2 linked regions of the Homo sapiens genome follow. Each later gene encodes a partner of the first gene's protein in a complex. Each region holds a gene or a part of one and is shown in the gene's direction. Other genes may lie near its edges.

Region 1 (7,036 bases):
CCAAGTAACCACCACTACTGTCAGGAAGTTGTACATTACATTGTGGTTTGCCCTCTAGTTGCCATCCTCCCCTGTGTGCCTCCTCTAGACCAAGCCAGTGGCATTTGCTGTGCGGACAAATGTTGGCTACAATCCGTCTCCAGGGGATGAGGTGCCTGTGCAGGGAGTGGCCATCACCTTCGAGCCCAAAGACTTCCTGCACATCAAGGAGGTGGGTATCTGGAGGGAGGGCAGGGAAGTGGGTGCCAGGAGACAGGCAGCCAGAGTGCTAGTGGACAAAAGGCTTCTGAGCCAAGCAGAGCCAGGCTGAATCTGCTGTGTGACCTTAGACAAATCTCTCCACCTCTCTGAGCCTCTTAATTTTCTACTGGAAAAATGAGGTGGTAATGCTTAGGTCAGAAGGTTGTTGGGAGGGTTTGTTAGGGGGCCTGAACTGGCATGGCGGTGTGCCAGGGACATGTAGGTATCCGCATTTACTCCAGCGGCCTTTGTAGAGTAGGGTGGGCACATGGGGAGAAGGACTCTCAGAATTGCATTGGGCCGGTGGCAGGGTGGTCCATGGCCAGAAAGCATGCTGGTCCTGGAGTTGTCCTGAGAATTGGCAGCTCCACTCAGAGGCTGGAGCCAGGGCTGGGGATTTTTGAGGGTGCCACCCCTGGGCTGGGAGGTGAGTCTGGGCGTTTCCCCTAGAGAGTGACTGCTAGCTTGCCCCTGCAGTTTCCCTCTTGCTCTTTCCACCCACCTGCCATATTCTTTGCAGAAATACAATAATGACTGGTGGATCGGGCGGCTGGTGAAGGAGGGCTGTGAGGTTGGCTTCATTCCCAGCCCCGTCAAACTGGACAGCCTTCGCCTGCTGCAGGAACAGAAGCTGCGCCAGAACCGCCTCGGCTCCAGGTGTCTGGGTGGGGCAGGGGAAGGGGATGCTGCCAACCCCAGGAGAGGCCATACAGCCTGGACTAGGCCTCAATGGTTGTCCCTGGCCCTGAGGGCACAGAGCTGCCTGTGGCATCACCAGTGGGGCTGGAGCACCTCCGGGGGTGCCGCATGTGAGAGGATGAGAGCCCCCCACGCCCACCTCTTTGCTCACAAGCTCGGTTTGCCTCTGCCCACACAGCAAATCAGGCGATAACTCCAGTTCCAGTCTGGGAGATGTGGTGACTGGCACCCGCCGCCCCACACCCCCTGCCAGTGGTAAGAGCCATCGCCATGCAGGGGTTTGGGAAGAAGCTCCTGGGTGGGGTGGTCTCCCCACTCCCTGAATCCTCCTTTCCCTGCAGTAGGAAACACCCCAATCCTGAGTCCCCCAAGCACATGCAGTGGTTCCCCCTCCATGAAGAGTAGGCTACCCCTCAAGCTGGGCCTGTCATGTCTCTCCTCTCCCTTTTCTTTGGTAGCTCCATCTCTCTGCCTGATTCCCCTGCCCTGCCCCCATTCATTTCTCCCAGCCCTGTTCCATTCACCTCTTCTTCTTTCTTTTTTCCCCATCCCCATCCCTGCGTTCTGTACTTGTGTCTCCACGTTCATCTCACTCCTTCTCCCCACCTCGCCTCCCTCCTCCCTCTCTCCTGACTCTCCGGTCCAGGTAATGAAATGACTAACTTAGCCTTTGAACTAGACCCCCTAGAGTTAGAGGAGGAAGAGGCTGAGCTTGGTGAGCAGAGTGGCTCTGCCAAGACTAGTGTTAGCAGTGTCACCACCCCGCCACCCCATGGCAAACGCATCCCCTTCTTTAAGAAGGTAATTCTCGCTGTGTTCTTGCAAGAGGTGGGGGAGTCAGGGCCAGCACTTTGGTGGAGGGAAGGGGGCTGTAATGGATTCAGATGTGGTACCAACCTGTTCTGTGGGCATCAGGGCTTCCTGCTGAGGTGGAGGGAAGGGTAGCATGGGCACATCCCCCTCCACACACAACTCCACCCTGGCCCGATCTCCAGGAAGGAGATCTTGCCCTTGGAAGGTTGCCCCCACACCTGGGGCAGCAGGGTTTGGTGGTCATGAACCCTGACCTCTCCCCTCACTCCCAGGGGCCTGCTCTGGTGTTGGTGTCTACCTTGGCATGTGAAGCAGGACATGGGATGGCATTCCTTCTTTGCCCTTTTTTGACTCTCTGGGTGGGCACATAGTGGGGGGGGGCTGCTGGCTGCAAAGCAAGACAGTTAAGGGAACCCCTAAAATGGGCATGTTGGCATGCACTGGGGGCAGGAGATGGGCAACAAGATAGGGGCTGTCACCCTCTCCAGCTCTTTTCCAAGACCCAGAAGAGGGTAGGATATGTCTGAATATTCCCACATCCACTGGACTGACTGTCAGTCCTGCTCCCAGCCCTGATCCAGGGCCACCTCTGGCTCCCCCTTGGCGTGGGGTCCCGTTCCCCGTCTCTGGCTCTGTCTGTCACTAACACGCATGCCCTGTTATCTCTCCTCGTCTGCCCGGCTCTCCCTCCCTCTCTTGTCCTGGCTCCTGCCTTGCCCTCTGCCCCTGCCTGGGTCCCCTTCCCTCTCTCCTCCCCCTTCCCTCTCTTGGCAATCTCTGGACCCAGCCAAACAGAAGCAGAAGTCGGTGAGTATCACAGCTTTCTGTGTCCTCCTCCCCACTCCCTGGGATGAGCTAGGGGGACCTTCTAACACCCATTCCCACATCTGTCCCCCATTTCCCCCACCCTTCCTGGTTCTCCCTGGCCATCCCTCCCCACCCCCACCCTGATCCCTACATCTGGGCTCTGGGACCAGGGTGGGGGAAGGCTGCATGGGGGAGCCTGGAGTCTGGGGGAGAGGATCTAATGTCATCTCCACTCTGGGGTTTCCCCTCCCTGCTTCCCCCCCCAGACAGAGCATGTGCCCCCCTATGACGTGGTGCCTTCCATGAGGCCCATCATCCTGGTGGGACCGTCGCTCAAGGGCTACGAGGTAGGACTTCCTAGAGGGGAGTGGATGCAGAGGGGCCTTAGAAAGATCTTCAGACCCCAGAGAGATCCCCTAGAAGGGCCCGATCCCAAGGCATCCTCCCAGGAGGGCTACAGACTTTCAGAGACAACCCCCAGGGGGCCCAATCCACAGAAAGACCCACTCAGAGGAGCCCCGTCCCCCAAAGAAACCCTCAGAAGAGCCCTCCCAGAGATGCCACTTACAGGGACCTTGGAACCAGAGACCCCAGTGGAGGCCCCTCAGACTCAGACCCCCGCCCGCCGTAAAGGCCTGTCCAGAAGAAAGTGGAACGTGAGGGTACAAATACCCAGCGACTCAGAGTCTGAGCGGCTTTAAATGCCTGCCTTCTCCTCCCTCCCTCCCCACAAACCCCCACCCCCAGGTTACAGACATGATGCAGAAAGCTTTATTTGACTTCTTGAAGCATCGGTTTGATGGCAGGTAAGATCCTGGGAGCTGCTCCTCGCACCTGCCGTTGCTCTCTGCTGCTGGGGATGGGCAGGATGCCTCGAATCACAATCCTGGGACTCGGACTGAGGAACAGAAGGCGGGCCTGGAACTGGGGAGTGGGCAGGGCATTCCAGCCCACCCTGACCCCTGACTCCCCTCTTGCCCCATTCCCCAGGATCTCCATCACTCGTGTGACGGCAGATATTTCCCTGGCTAAGCGCTCAGTTCTCAACAACCCCAGCAAACACATCATCATTGAGCGCTCCAACACACGCTCCAGCCTGGGTGAGCCTACTCCTGCTGTCTTCACTCCCCCTTTCTGGGCCGGATGTGGGAGGGGTGGGAGGTGTGGGAGGTAGTGGGCAGGGCCATCTCCAGAAGTGTTCCCTCCACCTGCTGTTCCTGGGAGGCCACCTGACATTCCCCCATCCACATGACTCCATGCCCCCAGCTGAGGTGCAGAGTGAAATCGAGCGAATCTTCGAGCTGGCCCGGACCCTTCAGTTGGTCGCTCTGGATGCTGACACCATCAATCACCCAGCCCAGCTGTCCAAGACCTCGCTGGCCCCCATCATTGTTTACATCAAGATCACCTCTCCCAAGGTGGGTGCAGGAGCCTGACCCTGGCCAGGACAGCGTGGTTTGAAAGGGCTGCTTGGGTTTAAATCCCAGCTCCACTGCTTACTAATTACGTGAATTAATCTGCCTGAGTCTTAGTTTCCTTCTCTGTAAAGCTCCATCGTATTGTCAAGTGTTTCAACCTCATATGAATGTATAGCACTTAGCAAATGGTCTGATACAACATGTTAGCTATTATTTACTATTATTAGGGTCATGCAGACCAGTCCCCTGTCTCCACTCTGATTGACTTCCCACCCTTGGACTGAAAGAATTCTGTGCTTTTTGTTCCAGTGCCACCCAGCTACTTGGCAGTTGGGAGGTCTTTCCTTTCTTCTTCTTCTTCTTCTTCTTCTTCTTTTTTTTAAGTCAGGATCTCGCTCTGTCACCCAGGCTGGAATGCAGTGATGCAATCATAGTTCACTGCAGCCTCTACCTCCTGGGCTAAAGCAATCCACCCACCTCGGCCTCCCACGTAGCTGGGACTACAGGTGTCCACCACCATGCCTGGCTAATATTTTTATTTTTTAGAGATGGGATTAGCTGTGTTGCCCAGGCTGCTTTCCTCTCTTGATATCAGCCCTTTTTGCTGCAGTGTCCTCATTTGGACTTTGATAGAGGGGAAATCGGTAGGAAGGCCGCCTTACTTTTTCCTTGTATTGCAGCACCATTAACTTTCCCTTCTAGATGCCAGTGGGGATCTGAGAAACACGGAGGAAGAGTTGAGGTGGAGGATTTGAAGTTAGAAGACAGCATGGGCTTGAAATTCAAGCTCTGATTGGTTTACGTATTGATTTATTCTTATTGTTGGTTGTTTTTTATTGAACTTGGAATCTTGGGGGAATTATTTAGCCTCTGATTCTCTATTTCTTCACCTATAAAGTGGGGTTGTAATCCCTCTCGTGTTATTGTTGAGAGGATTGCTGTAAGGAGCCCAGTATACTCTCTGATTTATTTATTTATTTATTTATTTATTTATTTATTTATTTATTTATTTTAGACAGAGTCTTGCTCTGTCACCAGGCTGGAGTGCAGTGGCGCGATCTTAGCTCACTGCAACCTCCACCTCCCAGGTTCAAGCGATTCTCCTGCCTCAGCCTCCTGAGTGGCTGGGACTACAGGAGTGTACCACCACGGCCCGGCTAATTTTTTGTATTTTTTAGTAGAGACAGGGTTTCACCATGTTGGCCAGGATGGTCTCGATCTCCTGACCTCGTGATCTGCCCACCTCGGCCTCCCAAAGTGCTGGGATTACAGGAGTGAGCTACCGCACCCAGCCTACTCTCTGATTTATGAGGGCAGCCAATAGTGGTAACCATTATCATCCCATGAGCTGGGCTCCCTGGACCAGTTACTTAACCTTTTTTTTTTTTGAGACAGCCTTGCCCTGTCACCCAGGCTGGAGTGCAGTGGTGCGATCTCACTCACTACAGCCTCCGCCTCCCAGGTTCAAGTGGTTCTTGTGCCTCAGTCTCCCGAGTAGCTGGGGTTAGGATTACGGGCACACACCACACCTGGCTTTTTTTTTTTTTCTTTTTGAGAAGGAGTCTCACTCTGTCACCCAGGCTGGAGTGTAGTGGTGCGATCTTGCTCACTGCAACCTCCGCCTCCTGGGTTCCAGTGATTCCTCTGCCTCATCCTCCTGAGTAGCTGGGACTACAGGTGCATGCCACCACACCTGGCTAATTTTTATATTTTTAGTAGAGACGGGATTTTACCATGTTGGTCAGGTTGGTCTTGAACTCCTGACCTCGTGATCCACCGGCCTCGGCCTCCCAAAGTTCTAGGATTACAGGTGTGAGCCACTGTGCCCGGCCACACCTGGCTAATTTTTGTATTTTTAGTAGAAACAGGTTTTCACCATGTTGGCCAGGCTGGTCTCAAACTCCTGACCTCAAGTGATTTCTCCTGCCTCAGCCTCCCTAAGTGCTGGGATTACAGGCGTGAGCCACCGCGCCCAGCCTACTTAACCTTTCTGAGTCCTCTGTTTCTAATGAGATAAAGGGGATGATGGGATTTAAGTACTTCCTGAGGGGAGTTGAAAGGACCAAATGAGATAATGGATGCAAAAACACTGAACTAGAAAGTAACCAATGCTTCCATTTCCCCCACTGAGGTTAAGAGGAGGGACTCTGGAACCAGGCAGCCTGGACCTTCTACTCCAGGGCTGTCACTTACTGGCTCTGTGTTCCTTTGGCAAGCGGCCAAACATCTCTATGCCTTGGTTTCCTCATCTGCAGCATAGGCATACTGGGTTTGTGAAGATTAAATAAATGGGTTAACCATGAAAAATGCTTGGTATTGGGCCAGGCACGGTGGCTCACACCTGTAATCTCAGCACCTTGGGAGCCCGAGGCCGGCGGATTGCCTGAGCTAAAGAGTTCAAGACCAGCCTGGGCAACATGATGAAACCCTGCCTCTACTAAAATTCAAAAAATTAGCTGCGCATGGTGGTGGGCACCTGTAATTCCAGCTACTCAGGAGGCTGAGGCACAAGAATTGCTTGAACCCAGGAGGCGGAGGTTGCAGTGAGCCGAGATTGCATCACTGCACTCCAGCCTGGGTGACAGAGCAAGACTCTGTCTCAAAAATAAATAAATAAATAAATAAAAATAAACGCTTGGTATCCCAGAACTATATCTGTTCCATTTTGTAAGAAGATTTTCATTTTCAAATAATTTCAGATTTACAGAAGTGTGGCAAGAATAGTATCAAAAAAATCTTATTTTTTGAATATTCTTCACCAGGATTCACTAACTTTTTAACATTTTATTGAGGTAGAATTCCCATACCATTAAGTTCAGCCATTTAAAGTCTATAAGCCAGGCTTGGTGGCTCACACCTGTAATCCCAGCACTTTGGGAGGCTGAGGCAGGTGGATCACTTGAGCTCAGGAGTTGGAGACCAGACTGGGCAACATGGCAAGACCCTGTCTCTATTAAAAAATAAAAAATAAATTAAGTGTACAGTCTAATTTTTTTCAGATTCACAAATTTTGAAACATTTACTTTTATCTTTCTTTCTCTCTTTTTTTTTTTGAGGGG
Region 2 (7,036 bases), on another chromosome or scaffold:
ACACCTGTAATCCCAGCGCTTTGGGAGGCCAAGAAGGGCGGATCACTTGAGGTCAGGAGTTTGAGACCAGCCTGGGCAAGATGGTAGAACCCCATCTCTACTAAAATTACAAAATTAGCTGGGCATGGTGGCATACGCTTGTAATCCCAGCTATTTGGGAGGTTGAGGCGGGAGCATCACTGGAACCTGGGAGGCAGAGGTTGCAGTGAGGTGAGATTGCACCACTGCACTCTAGCAAGGGTGACAGAGTAAGACTCCATCTCAAAAGATAGATAAATAAATAAATAATAAATAAATAAATAAATAAATATGTCCCATTGGGTGTGAAAAGAAAACTTTAGAACTTTTTGTTTTATCTTATCTGGTTTTATTTCTATTTTTGGGTTCACTGTAATGCACATAATTTATAAAACCCCCAAATACACATGCATTTGAGCTGTGCTCAAAAATTTATTTCAATGGCTATTTTTATTTTGAAATAATCTCATACTTTTAAAAAGTTGCAAGTATAATATAAAACCTTTTTTTCTGAACCATTTGAGAGTAACTCCAAAATGATGTTCCATCATCCAAAAACACTTTAATGCATATTTCAAGGCATTGTGTGTATTCAAGGCAAAATGTGTATTACAAGGGCGTTATCCTGCATAATTCTTCTATGTAACCACAACATAACCACAAAATCAGGAAATTAACACTGATGCTTTTTTTTTTTTTTTTTTTTTTTTGGAGACAAGAGTCTCGCTGTCGCCCAGGCTGGAGTGCAGAGGCATGATCTTGGCTCACTGCGACCTCTGCCTCCCGGGTTCAAGCCATTCTCATGCCTCAGCTTCCTGAGTAGCTGGGATCACAGGCACACACCACCATGCCAGGCTACTTTTTGTATTTTTAGTAGAGATGGGGTTTCGCTATGCTGGCCAGACTGGTCTCAAACTCCTGACCTCAAGTGATCTGCCTGCCTCAGCTTCTCAAAGTGCTGGGATTACAGACGTGAGTCACCATGCCAGGCTAATACATTACTACATTCTAATCCTCAGACCCCATTCAAATTTCATTTGCTGTCCCAGTAAATGTCCTTTATAGCAAAAGGATCCAATCCAGAATCAGACAGTGCATTGAGTTGCCTTATCTCTTTCATCTCTTCCATCTGGAAGAGTTCATCAGTCTTTCCTTGACACGATCTTGACACTTGAAGACTGCAGGTCAGTATGTCCCTCAGTTGGGGTTTGTCTGATTACTAGGATATGCATCTTGGATAAGAATGCCACAGAAATGATTCTGTGTTCTCATTACAAGCTATTAGGTGACACCAGTCTTGACTTGTCCCATTACTGGTGATATTAACTTTGCTCAACTATATATATATGACATATCCAATCAATAAAGATCACCAATCTAGAAGACTGTACTGAGTAAGAACACTTCTCAACCTGGAAGCCTGGGAAGGGCATGAAATTTCCACCCATGGGGTCAAGAGATGACTCAATTGGAACAATTAAGGTGTGGGCTATCCCAGAGGCCAGAGCAGGACCTGGTGGCCTCTCAGGTACCTGAGATATTCAATAACCCAAGAGGGAGAGTGGGGCCTAGGCTGGGGCTTTGGGAGAGCCCTGGGTACAGTGATAAGAAACAAGTAAGCCATACGAAGCGGTTCTAGCCAGGCACGGTGGCTCATGCCTGTAATCCCAGCACTTTGGGAGGCCAAGTGGGTGGATCACAAGGTCAGGAGTTTGAGACCAGCCTAGCCAACATGGTGAAACCCCATCTCTACTAAAAATACAAGCATTAGCAGGGAGTGGTGGCACATGCCTATAATCCCAGCTACTCAGGAGGCTGAGGCAGGAGAATCACTTGAACCCGGGAAGCAGAGGTTACAGTGAGCTCAGATTGTGCCACTGCACTCCAGCCTGGGCAACAGAGTGAGACTCTGTCTCAAAAAAAGAAAAAGTGGTTCTGGTCTCCTCTCCTGGGCTGGAGAGATAACTGAGTCCCTTCGTCATCCCCAGGCAGGGCTGCGGACCATTGAGGAAGAGGCAGCCCCCGAGATCTGTCGCACGGTCTCAGGAGACCTGGCTGCTGAGGAGGAGCTGGAGAGAGCCATGGTGGAGGCTGCGATGGAGGAGGGAATATTCCGGGTGAGGGAGAGCCAGGAGCACCCCTAGTGGTCTAGACACCATGAGTGGCAGTGTCTCACAGAGAGGAGGGCTGGGAGCCCAGCCACACGAGAGGGGGACATGGGAGCTGAAGATACCCCACTCCGTCTCTCCACTTCACCACCCACCTCTCCTGGGACTCAGAATCAATGACCTGATCTACTAGAGGTGTCAAATGCAACACACTCTTTCCCACATTTCCCTACCAAATCTCACCCCTTCCCTTTCCTCCCCACAAACCCTAGGCAACGACCCATCTCCCAGAGGCCCTCCAGGATCAAATGCCCTGCCTGCCTCCACTGAGGCCAGTCCTCCATCCTTAGCTCTGTCTCATGTTTCTTATAACACTTTATTGCTGGAAGGTCTTTAATGACACCTAGTTAGGTCTTTTTGGGTTATTCATGAGGAAATAGTGGCCCACAGAGATCATGTGAGATGTCCAATATCACCTAGTAAATCAGTTTCAGAGCGGGGACTAGAACCCAGTGCTGCAGACTCCCGATTCAGCCCTCTCTCCCCTACACCACACTTCTCTTCTGTGTGCCTGTGTCCCCTATATACCTCCTTAGGTGTGTGCTGTCTACCCCATCAAACAAAGAACTTTCTAAGGGTGGGAATTTTCTTCTTTTGATCTCACCACTCAGTCCATCCTCCTTTGGCCTTATAAGATTTGTCTCCCAATACTATTGCTTGTTCCCAATACCACTGTCCCAGAGTGACAGCCCCCCATGCCCTCCCTGCCCTCACCCCCAGTCACTGCTCTTCTCCTTGCCCCTAGAGGACTGGAGGCCTGTTTGGCCAGGTGGACAACTTCCTGGAAAGGACCAACTCCCTGCCCCCCGTCATGGCCAATCAGAGACCCCTCCAGTTTGCTGAGATAGAGATGGAAGAGATGGAGTCACCTGTCTTCTTGGAGGACTTCCCACAAGATCCACGCACCAACCCCCTGGCTCGTGCCAATACCAACAATGCCAACGCCAATGTCGCCTATGGCAACAGCAACCATAGCAACAGCCATGTGTTTTCCAGGTAGTGGCGGCCACTGCCATCCCTGGGTGTAGAGGTACTGGGAGGACAATGTCAGCAGGTTCCAGGTTGGATTGGAAGAGGGTACCCCAAATTTGTAGGGTGTCTTTTGCTTGCCTTTGTGCCCCAATCCATCCTGAACCTTAATGTAAGAGGCCGACCTCGATGGCAGAGGCTTCTTTGGCCAGCAGGGGGAAGCCTCACATCATGTCAGTATTGGCCCCAGTGTTGAGAGGTTCTTTTATTCCGTCGGCTTCAGCAAGTCTAGGAGCTGAGACGTATTGAACACATGATAGGTTAGGAGAGGATCTTCGGTGGTAGCACATACCACAAAAGACTGTGGACAATAAGATTCCATCACTGGATTTAGGTTCCAAGGAGATCCCGCTGTGCTGGGTGGTTCCCATCTCACCAACCTTGGGCTGTAGACTAAATATAATCTGTGATTACGTAAGTGTCATAAAAAACAGCAGGATGAGGGGGAGAACTTCTCAGCAATCATAACTTAGGGGCTAGGCTCAGGCAAAGCTTCTGTTCTAGACAGGAGGTCAGCTGATTGGAGGCCTCTTCGGCCTGGAAAGGCTTAGCCCCAGGCCTCAGGAATAAGCAGAACAAGGCAGCAGCCAGCCCCTTTTCATGGCCAGGGCTGCCTGCACCCCTTCCAGTCACAGAGACCCCTTAAATTCAGCCCACAAGCCTTGAAGGGTGCATGTACCTTTTTGGGTCACCATGGTGCAAGGTAACGTGGAAATACAGAAGCATCAGCCCTGGGCCCTGCCCTGAAGGGGGTTGTCGTCTTGTTGGGTGATATGTTATGTGATATGATTGGGACCAAATAATCACAGAGGCCAGGAGTGGTGGCTCATGCCTGTAATCCCAGCACTTTGGGAGGCCTAGGCAGGTGGATCACTTGAGGTCAGGAGTTCGAGACCTGCCTGGCCAACATGGAGAAACCGTGTCTCTACTAAAAACACACAAAAAATTAGTCAGGTGTGGTGGCGCATGCCTGAAATCTCAGCTACTCGGGAGGCTGAGGCAGAAGAATCTCTTGAACTCAAGAAGTGGAGGTTGCAGTGAGCTGATTGTGCCACTGCACTCCAGCCTGGGTGAGAGAACAAGACTCCGTCTCAAAAAAACAAAACAAAACAAAACAAATAAACAAAAAACACCAAATAATAACAGATATTTAGTGTCCTGAGAGTGCAGAGGGGGTATGGATCACCATGGGCTGGAAAGACCTAGAATGGTTCTCAGCCTTGGCTGTGCATTAGATAATCCAGGGAGCTTCTGCAAATCCCAATGCCTGGGCCTCACCACAGATGCTGGGTGTGGGACTCAGCCACCACTCACCTTTGAGCTCCTCAGGTGATCCTATGTGTGGCCAAGATGGAGAAGCAGGGTTCCAAAGGCTGGGAGGCTGCAGCTGGGCCTTGGAAGATGAACAGAATGTAGAAAGGGTAGAGGGAGCAACTGAGCAAAGGAGTGGAGTCAGGAATGCTCTGGACTCCTTCCTCCTAGAGAGTCAGGGCTGGCTGGGGCACAGTGGTGGAAACGTCAGCCCTAGAGTCACGGCTGCTACACTAGGTTGGCCTTGTACAGGCTCTGAGGGAAAAGGATGTTTGGGGCCAGAGAGGCAGGGATGCCGAGAGAGCTAGCAGCCTTCTCTGGTTCACCCAGCCTTGCTTCCATTTCAGTGTCCACTATGAAAGGGAGTTCCCAGAAGAGACAGAGACGCCTGCTACCAGAGGACGAGCCCTTGGCCAACCCTGCAGGGTCCTGGGTCAGTCCCTTCTGTGCATCTAAGAAGCTTGAGTCTTCTCCCAGAGGAGTCCGGGAAGCCCCACTCTTTTCTTAGAGTCTGGGAACTTGGCTGGGAGGGCTGGCTTGGGAGCCTGTTACAATGGCAGTCATCTGGGCCCTGGAATGGGAAAACCATCAGGACCAGCTACTTGTCCAGGGGGGAAGCAGGGCACCATCTAGGTGGCTGAGTGAGGTGGAAGGGGGAAAGCCCATTCATGCTAAAGGGCCCTCTGCAGGCCTCCCAGGAAACTCACACAGCCCCCTACACCATCCCCAGCACAGGAGTCCCCACACCGCCCCAGGTCCCTGGAAGGGCAGCCCCTGGACACACTGACGTCTTGACTCTGGGGCCCTTCTGCAAATGATCTTGTAGTCTAGTATGTCCTAGACTGCTGTGTGACAGTAGGAGCCCCAAGGATGCTGGGGGCTAGTGGCAATAAGGATACTGCTGTGTTCCCCAACACACTTTCACTTTAATGTGCACACACCCAGGGACCACAGAGGACCAGCTTGGCCAGAGACTCTGGCCCTTATCCCCTCTCCCAAACCTTCAAGAACAGCGACCAGGGCCAGTAAAGTTGGGGCAGCCCTGCCTGGCCTGGAGTTGATTGGGCCTCATCATGTGTCCACCCTCTAAGACACCTTCTGCAGCCCTGAGAATCTCAGAGCTCTCACAGAGTGTGGCTAGCCAGCCAAGCGAGCCTCTGTTGACTCAGGGCTCCTGGCAGGAGTCAGCAGCCCCTCTTATCCTTGCCCCTTCTTGCATACAGGACCCCACAGCAAACCCTGTGTGGAGATGCTGAAGGGACTGCTGACCCAGAGGGCAATGCCCAGAGGCCAGGCACCTCCTGCCCCCTGCCAGGTAACAGTGGCAGAGGCCTGGGAGCAAACTCCATACAGAGACCCTGCCTGGCCTGATACTTGGAGTGGGATCATGGCAGGGGAAGGCTGTGGCAGCAATGTGTCCAACAGTACAGAAGGGACGGGATCCCTCCATCCTCCCCTTTCTGTGGATCTTGGTTGAGTTGCCCTCAGATGATCTGGAATTTTGCTCATTGGTGGGCTCCAGCACCCCTGTCGGGGTCTTTGCTTTTGTACCTTTGGAACAGTGCCCCAGGGTGGAGTCCTCCATGCCTGAGGACAGAAAGAGCTCCACACCAGGGTCTCTTCATGAGGAGACACCCCACAGCAGGAGCACCAGGGAGAATACTTCCAGGTGCTCAGCACCAGCTACAGCCCTGCTGATCCAAAAGGTGAGCCAGGGGCTGGGTCACAGCAGTGGCTGCATTGAGTGGTGGCCCTGTGATGGCCTGGCGTGGAGAGAGGGTAGGGCCAACAGAGGCAGGTCCCCAAATGTGGCTCCCCAGGAAGACCCCACTCAGCCTACTCTCCTCCCTGCAGGCTCTGGTTCGAGGGGGCCTGGGCACCTTGGCAGCTGATGCAAACTTCATCATGGCAACAGGCCAGGCCCTGGCAGATGCCTGCCAAATGGAACCAGAGGAAGTGGAGATCATGGCAACAGAGCTACTGAAAGGACGAGAGGCCCCAGAGGGCATGGCCAGCTCCCTGGGATGCCTGAACCTCGGGTCCTCCCTGGGCAGCCTCGACCAACACCAGGGCTCCCAGGAGACCCTTATTCCTCCAAGGCTGTGATGCCCACACAGCATCAGCATGGGCTTAGAGCTGGCATGACCAATGGGGGTGGGGAAGTTGCTGGGGTGGAGAAGGGCTAGCCCACCGCAGCAGCCTCCCTCCCTCTCAGCAGCTAGATGCATGGCCTGAGGCAGGGTGGTCAGGAACCACCTCAAAAAGTGCGGAGGAAGTAGCTGGACAGGCCCTGCCCCTCACCAGCAAGAGGCATGATTGGATGGAGCTTCTAATGTCATTCAAAAAGGCCTGGTCAGTGCCTGTCTGGCCTAGGGCCACTCCCACCTGCAGGACATTAAAATCTCCAGGCCTGTGACACTGGCAACTGGCCTCTGCTTGTCCAGTTTTTTGGACTCTTCTACACCTGTGTTTCCCCCTCCCCAGTCCCTTCCCCAGGAACCCTGCCCATG

What was found. Proteins that work in one complex are often made in the same cells at the same time.
Region 2: CACNB1 (region 1) and CACNA1S share a complex: the UniProt entries of both Homo sapiens proteins name them as parts of the calcium channel complex.

Annotation. Positions count from the first base shown.
Region 1 is NC_000017.11:39,180,654-39,187,689, reverse strand, and holds part of CACNB1 (voltage-dependent L-type calcium channel subunit beta-1), read left to right. Parts: intron 1-88; coding exon 89-211; intron 212-760; coding exon 761-897; intron 898-1,117; coding exon 1,118-1,194; intron 1,195-1,585; coding exon of another isoform or gene 1,586-1,740; intron 1,741-2,539; coding exon 2,540-2,559; intron 2,560-2,825; coding exon 2,826-2,906; intron 2,907-3,306; coding exon 3,307-3,365; exon of another isoform or gene 3,366-3,457; intron 3,458-3,549; coding exon 3,550-3,659; intron 3,660-3,825; coding exon 3,826-3,977; intron 3,978-4,679; coding exon of another isoform or gene 4,680-4,697; exon of another isoform or gene 4,698-5,049; intron 5,050-7,036. UniProt on the Homo sapiens protein: Regulatory subunit of L-type calcium channels. Regulates the activity of L-type calcium channels that contain CACNA1A as pore-forming subunit.
Region 2 is NC_000001.11:201,039,427-201,046,462, reverse strand, and holds the end of CACNA1S (voltage-dependent L-type calcium channel subunit alpha-1S), read left to right. Parts: intron 1-2,006; coding exon 2,007-2,135; intron 2,136-2,931; coding exon 2,932-3,182; intron 3,183-4,873; coding exon 4,874-4,959; intron 4,960-5,749; coding exon 5,750-5,841; intron 5,842-6,088; coding exon 6,089-6,232; intron 6,233-6,380; coding exon 6,381-6,632; 3' UTR 6,633-6,951; downstream 6,952-7,036. UniProt on the Homo sapiens protein: Pore-forming, alpha-1S subunit of the voltage-gated calcium channel that gives rise to L-type calcium currents in skeletal muscle.